2 separate regions of the Homo sapiens genome follow, and region 1 is linked to region 2. Evidence: fine-mapped QTL for protein levels in blood plasma. A gene starts in region 2. The other region holds a variant in brackets. All regions are shown on one strand. Distances are between the middles of the regions. Region 1 has its middle 15 kb from the start of LIPK. Region 2 holds the start of LIPF (lipase F, gastric type).

The links. A credible set is the group of variants that fine-mapping cannot tell apart. PIP is the chance, under the fine-mapping model, that this variant and not a neighbour inherited with it causes the effect. Protein levels are from antibody-based Olink assays in UK Biobank. Linkage for the fine-mapping came from a reference panel and not from the study's own genotypes, which makes the PIPs less certain.
Region 1: its variant is the best candidate, but not a certain one, in a credible set for the plasma level of the LIPF protein (UK Biobank, PIP 0.57).

The regions. Positions count from the first base shown.
Region 1 is chr10:88,689,714-88,692,639 of GRCh38, reverse strand. No RefSeq gene overlaps it. Among named protein-coding and RNA genes, the nearest start is that of LIPK, 15 kb to the left of the region's middle. The variant G/T (reference allele first, on the strand shown) is at 1,679.
Region 2 is chr10:88,662,930-88,665,855 of GRCh38, reverse strand. LIPF (lipase F, gastric type) reads right to left here and starts at 1,414. Exons shown (of 10, transcript NM_004190.4): 1 at 1,365-1,414.

The DNA of each region.
Region 1 (2,926 bases), 27 kb before region 2:
ATGAGATATTTTGATGCAGGCATAAATGAGTAATAATCATATCAGGGTAAATGAGGTATCTATCCCCTCAAGCATTGATCCTTTGTGTTACAAGCAATTCAACTATACACTTTTAGTTATTTTTAAATGTACATTAAATTATCATTGACTAGTAATTCTATTGTGCTATCAAATACTCTATCTTATTTATTCTATATTTGTGCCCAGTAAGCATCTCCACTTCACTCCCCTCCCCCGCAACACAAAAAAAACCCTTCCCAGACTCTGGTAACCAACATTCTAGTCTCTATCTCCATGAATTCAGTTGTTTTAATTTTTAGCTCCCACAAACAAGTGAGAACATGAGAAGTTTATCTTTCTGTGTCTGGCTTATTTCACTTATGACATGACATCCAATTCCATCCAGGTTGTTGCAAATGACAAGATTAGCTACTCTCTGTTTTTGATTGGAGAGTCTAGTCCATTTACATTCAATGTTATTATTGATAAGTGAAGACTTACTCCTGCTATTTTGTTAGTTGTTTTCTGATTGTTTTGTGGTCTTCTCTTCCTTGTTTCCTTCCTTCCTGTCTTCCTTTTAATGATTTTCTCTGGTGATATGTATTAATCTATTGCTTTTTTTTTTGAGATGGAGTCTCAATCTGTCACCCAGGCTTGAGTGGTGCAGTGGCACCATCTCAACTCACTGCAACCTGCAACCTCCACCTCCCAGGTTCAATCGATTCTCCTGCCTCAGCCTCCCAAGTAGCTGGGATTACAGGCACTCATCACCACACCTGGCTAATTTTTGTATTTTTAGTAGAGATAGGTTTCACCATTTTGGCCAGGCTGATCTTGAACTTCTGACCTCAAGTAATCCTCCTGCCTCAGCCTCCTAAAGTGCTGGGATTATTGAGCCATCACACCCAGCCAATGTATTGCTTTTTTATTGTTTGTGGAACTGTTGTATGTTTTTTTATTTGAGGTTTCTACGACGCTTGCAAATAATATAACCCATTATTTTCAACTGATGACAACTTAACACTGATTGCATAAACAAGCAAAGAGAAAACTAACAAAAATTCTACACTTTAACTTCATCCCGCTTTTAAACTTTTAGTTGTTTCTATTTATATCTTATTGTACTGTATATTTCTTGAAAATTACTTGTCGTTATTATTTTTGATTGGTTCTTTTAGCCTTTCTACTTGTGAACAGTTTACACACCACAATTACAGTATTATAATATTCTGTTTTTCTGTGTACTTACTATTACCAGTGAGTTTTGTACCTTCAGATTTCTTATTGCTCATTAATGTCCTTTTCTTTCAAATTGAAGAACTCTCTTTAGCATTTCTTATAGGACAGGTCTGCTGTTAATGAAATGCCTCAGCTTTTGTTTGTCTGGGAAAGTCTTTATTTCTCCTACATGTTTGAAGGATATTTTCACCAGATATACTATTCTAGGGTAAAAGGTGTTTTTTTTTTTTTTTTCCTTCAGCGCTTTAAATATGTCATGCCACTTTCTCCCGACCTGAAAGGTTTCCACTGAAAAGTCTTCTGCCAGACATACTGGAGCTCCCTTGAATGTTCTCTCTCTCTCTCTCTTTCTCTCTCCCTCTCTCCCTCCCTCTCTTACTGCTTTTAGGATCCTTTCTTTATCCTAGACCTTTGGGAGTTTGATTATTAAGTCTTCTTT[G/T]GGATAAGTCTGCTTGGTATTCTATAGGCTTCTTGTACATGAACATTGATAACTGTCTCTAGCTTTGGGAAGTTCTCTTATATCCCTTTGAATAAACTTTCTACCCCTATCTCTCTCTCTACCTCCTTTTTACGGCCAGTGACTCTTATATTTGCGCTTTGAAGCTATTTTCTAGATTTTGTAGGTGTGCTTTTGTGCTTTGTTCTTTTTCATTCTTTTTTCTCTGACTGTATTTTCTTTCTTTCTTTCTTTTTTTTTTTTTTTTGAGACGGAGTCTTGCTCTGTCGCCCAGGTTGGAGTGCAGTGGCATGATCTCAGCTCATTGCAACCTCCGCCTCCCAGGTTCAAGCGATTCTCCTGCCTCAGCCTCCTGAGTAGCTGGGATTACAGGCACCCGCCACTACGCTTGGCTAATTTTTTTGTATTTCTTTTAGTAGAGATGGGGTTTCACCATGTTAGTCAGGCAAAGTGCTTGGATTACAGGCGTGAGCCACCATGCTCCACCCTCTGGCTGCATTTTCAAATAGCCTGTCTTCAAGCTTACTAATTCTTTCTACTGCTTGTTCAATTCTGCTAAGAGACTCTCATGCATTCTTCAGTATGTCGATTGCATTTTTCAATTCCAGAATTTCTGCTTGATTCTTTGTAATTATTTCAATCTCTTTGTTAAATTTATCTGATAGAGTCCTGAATTCCTTCTCTGTGTTGTCTTGAATTTCTGTGAGTTTCCTCAAAACAGCTATTCTGAAGTTTATATCTGAAAGGTCACATTTCTCTGTCTCTCTGGGGTTGGTCCCTGGTGGCTTATTTAGTTTACTTGGTGAGGTCATATTTTCCTAGACGGTCTTGATGTTTGCAGACGTTTGTCAGTGTCTGGGCATTTAAGAGTTATGTATTTGTTGTAGTCTTCACAGTCTGGGCTTGTTTGTACCCACCCTTATTGGAAGGCTTTCTAGGTATTCAAAGGGACTTGAGTGCTGTGATCTAAGTTCTTGGTCACTGCAGCCATATCTGCGTTAGGAGGCACCCTTAGCCCAGTAACACTGTAGCTCTTGCAGACTTATAGAGGTACCACCTTGGTGGTTTTGGATAAGATCCAGAAGAATTCTCTGGATTACCAGGCAGAGTATCTTGTTCTTTTCCCTTACTTTCCCCTAAACAAATGGAGGGTCTGTCTCTGTGCTGAGCTTCCTGAAGTTGAGGGGTGGGTAATACAAGCACTACCCTGTAGCCACTGCCACTGGGACT
Region 2 (2,926 bases):
CGCAAGAGTCCTTGAACCGAGGAGGCGGAGGTTGCAGTGAGCGGAGATCGCACCATTGCACTCCAGCCCAGGAGACAGTGTGAGACTCCGTCTCAAAAAAAAAAAAAAAAAAAAAAAATCAGTTTTTAACTAAGCCTTGTTTTTACCGTGATATTTTAGGAAGAGATAAACTAATATATAAAGACTAACCAGTAGTGTTGTAACATTCAAACCAGAGGCTTTCATCAAACATTTCAGGAACCCACATGACCTCCATTAAGTGATTTGCCATTGTAAAGTGAGGACACTTAACCTACTGTTTGCGTTGGAGAACATCTCAATGGGCTCAAAGATGTTCAAGGGCAGAATAAATTTCTCAAAATGCTTGTTGCCAAGTCCTAGGAAAATACCAGTAATTAACACATACAGAGGACTCACTGTGTGCTGTACTGTGTGTTCAACATGGTATACGTGAAATGAACTATCTTGCTAAGACAGTGTTCTCATCTATAAAACAGGGCCTGTAATAGTACATTTCTCTATGTTAGGGGAATTCATTATGATAACAAAAGTAAAGTTCTTAACATGCTGGGCATCTCATAAACGTTAGTTAAATATAGTTATTATGACTATTATCTCATTTAATTCTCATAGCAACTCTATGAAGTAGGTAGCATTATATTATCCATTTTACAAATAAGCAAGGTAAGGCTAAAAGAGGACTCGCCCAACCAAATATATAGAAAGTAGTGGAGCCCATATTTTAAACTAGTCTATTTCCAAAGGCTATGTTCTTCCCCACTGTAATACTCCTTCAGTATGACCCTGGGCCAGCTTTTATAGGGACATCCCCAGGGAGATTTATATAATTTGGTCTAGACTTCTGTTTTGAAAAGTTTATAATTTAAATAAATGTTTTAATAGCCTATAAGGTTTCACAATCGTATTAATAATGATCAATTCAACAGCAGTTGATTTGGATGATATTAAATATTAAACATAGCATATTAATACAGCCAATTATATGTCACTAGATTACTGATCTATTCCTTCTCAAAAAGAAGAGTCACAGAGACTAGACTTTCACATTAGGAACTTAATAAACAAATTTGTAATTCAATAGTTAAGAAATTATGAGACTTTCACATTAGGCACTAATTGCAATAATAAACAAATTTGTCATTCCATAATTAAGAGTCTCATGTCCATACAAAAAAAAGAATAAAATAAATCAAATCCTAGAGGAATAAGCCATAATTTAAACAGATACATTTATGCAGGTGAATATGCAACAAATATCTAAGCCTTTAAAAATGCATCACTTGGGATAAAGAAAAAATCTAATAATTCAAATAACAATTTTGTTCAGCAGAAGTTCTACTTACAGTTTCCTCAGAAATAGTTAGGATTCTGTTTCTCTGGCTGGTTAGTATTTTGGTCAATGTTGTATTGACTTCTTATATACAAAACCTTCAACAATGGTCAGATTCCTCATCCACTGATTACATTACCAAAAAGACTTACTATCTGGGCATCATCTAATGTTAACAGGACAAAACTAAAAATTAAATATTGCATTCATTTTCACATAATACTGAGTGCTCACCTTTAACTTTTAACAAAGACAAATATTGGCCAAAGTAGTTCTGAGGATTAAAATGATTTAGGAACCATTAAAAATAATCCTTGATAGCCTAAACATATAAACGTTTTTGAGCCAAAGGTATAATGCAAATGATTATATAGTTTGGCTCAGATAGAGAGGCATAAAATGACAAAAGGCCACCTGTTATTCTTTAAAAATGCAGCGCATAAGCTATTTTGACTAGATGGTTAGATAAGTGAATGTGTTCAGCAAAGATTAATATTTTATTATGGTCTTTGACCAGGGTCTCAAATCCTACAGATAATGGTCTAGCTATCATACAAAACCCAGCCCTTGACCTTTAAGAACATATTTTTGGTGTCTTTTTCCTTCTAAGAAATCTAGGCTTAATACCTGGACGATGAAACAATCTGTACAACAAATCTCCAGGACACAGGTTTACCTATGTAACAAACCTGCACTTGTACCCCTAAACTTAAAATAAAAGTTAAAAAAAAGGAAACAAAAAAATCTATGGGTTATAGTTTGAACAATATGAATGTGTTTATTAAAAGTATATATTAAATTATGTTTTAAAATACAGTTGATCCTTTACAACCATCATGAGCATCTGTTGCTCGTGGGATACATGTGCGGAATGTGCAGGTTTGCTGCATAGTATACATGCGCCATGGTGGTTTGCTGCACCAATCCACCCATCATCTACATTAGGTATTTCTCCTAGTGCTATCCCTCCCATTGTCCCCTAGCCCCTGGCAGGCCCTGGTGTGTGACGTTCCCTTCCCTGTGTCCATGTGTTCTCATTGTTCAACTCCCACTTATGAATGAGAACATGCGGTGTTTGGTTTTCTCTTCCTGTGTTAGTTTGCTGAGAATGATGCTTTCCAGCTTTATCCATGTCCCTGTGAAGGACATGAACTCATCCTTTTTCATGGCTGCATAGTATTCCATGGTGTATATGTGCCACATTTTCTTTATCCAGTCTATTATTGATGGGCATTTGGGTTGGTTCCAAGTCTTTGCTATTGTGAATAGTGCTGCAATAAACATATGTGTGCATGTGTTCCCTACAGTGGAATGATTTACAATCCTTGGGGTATATACCCAGTAATGGGATTGCTGGGTCAAATGGTATTTCTGGTTCTAGATCCTTGAGGAATTGCCACACTGTCTTCCACAATGGTTGAACTAATTTACACTCCCACCAACAGTGAAAAAGCGTTCCTATTTCTCCACATCCTCTCCAGCATCTGTTATTTCCTGACTTTTTAATGATCGCCATTCTAACTGGAGTGAGATGGTATCTCATTGTGGTTTTGATTTGCATTTCTCTAATGACCA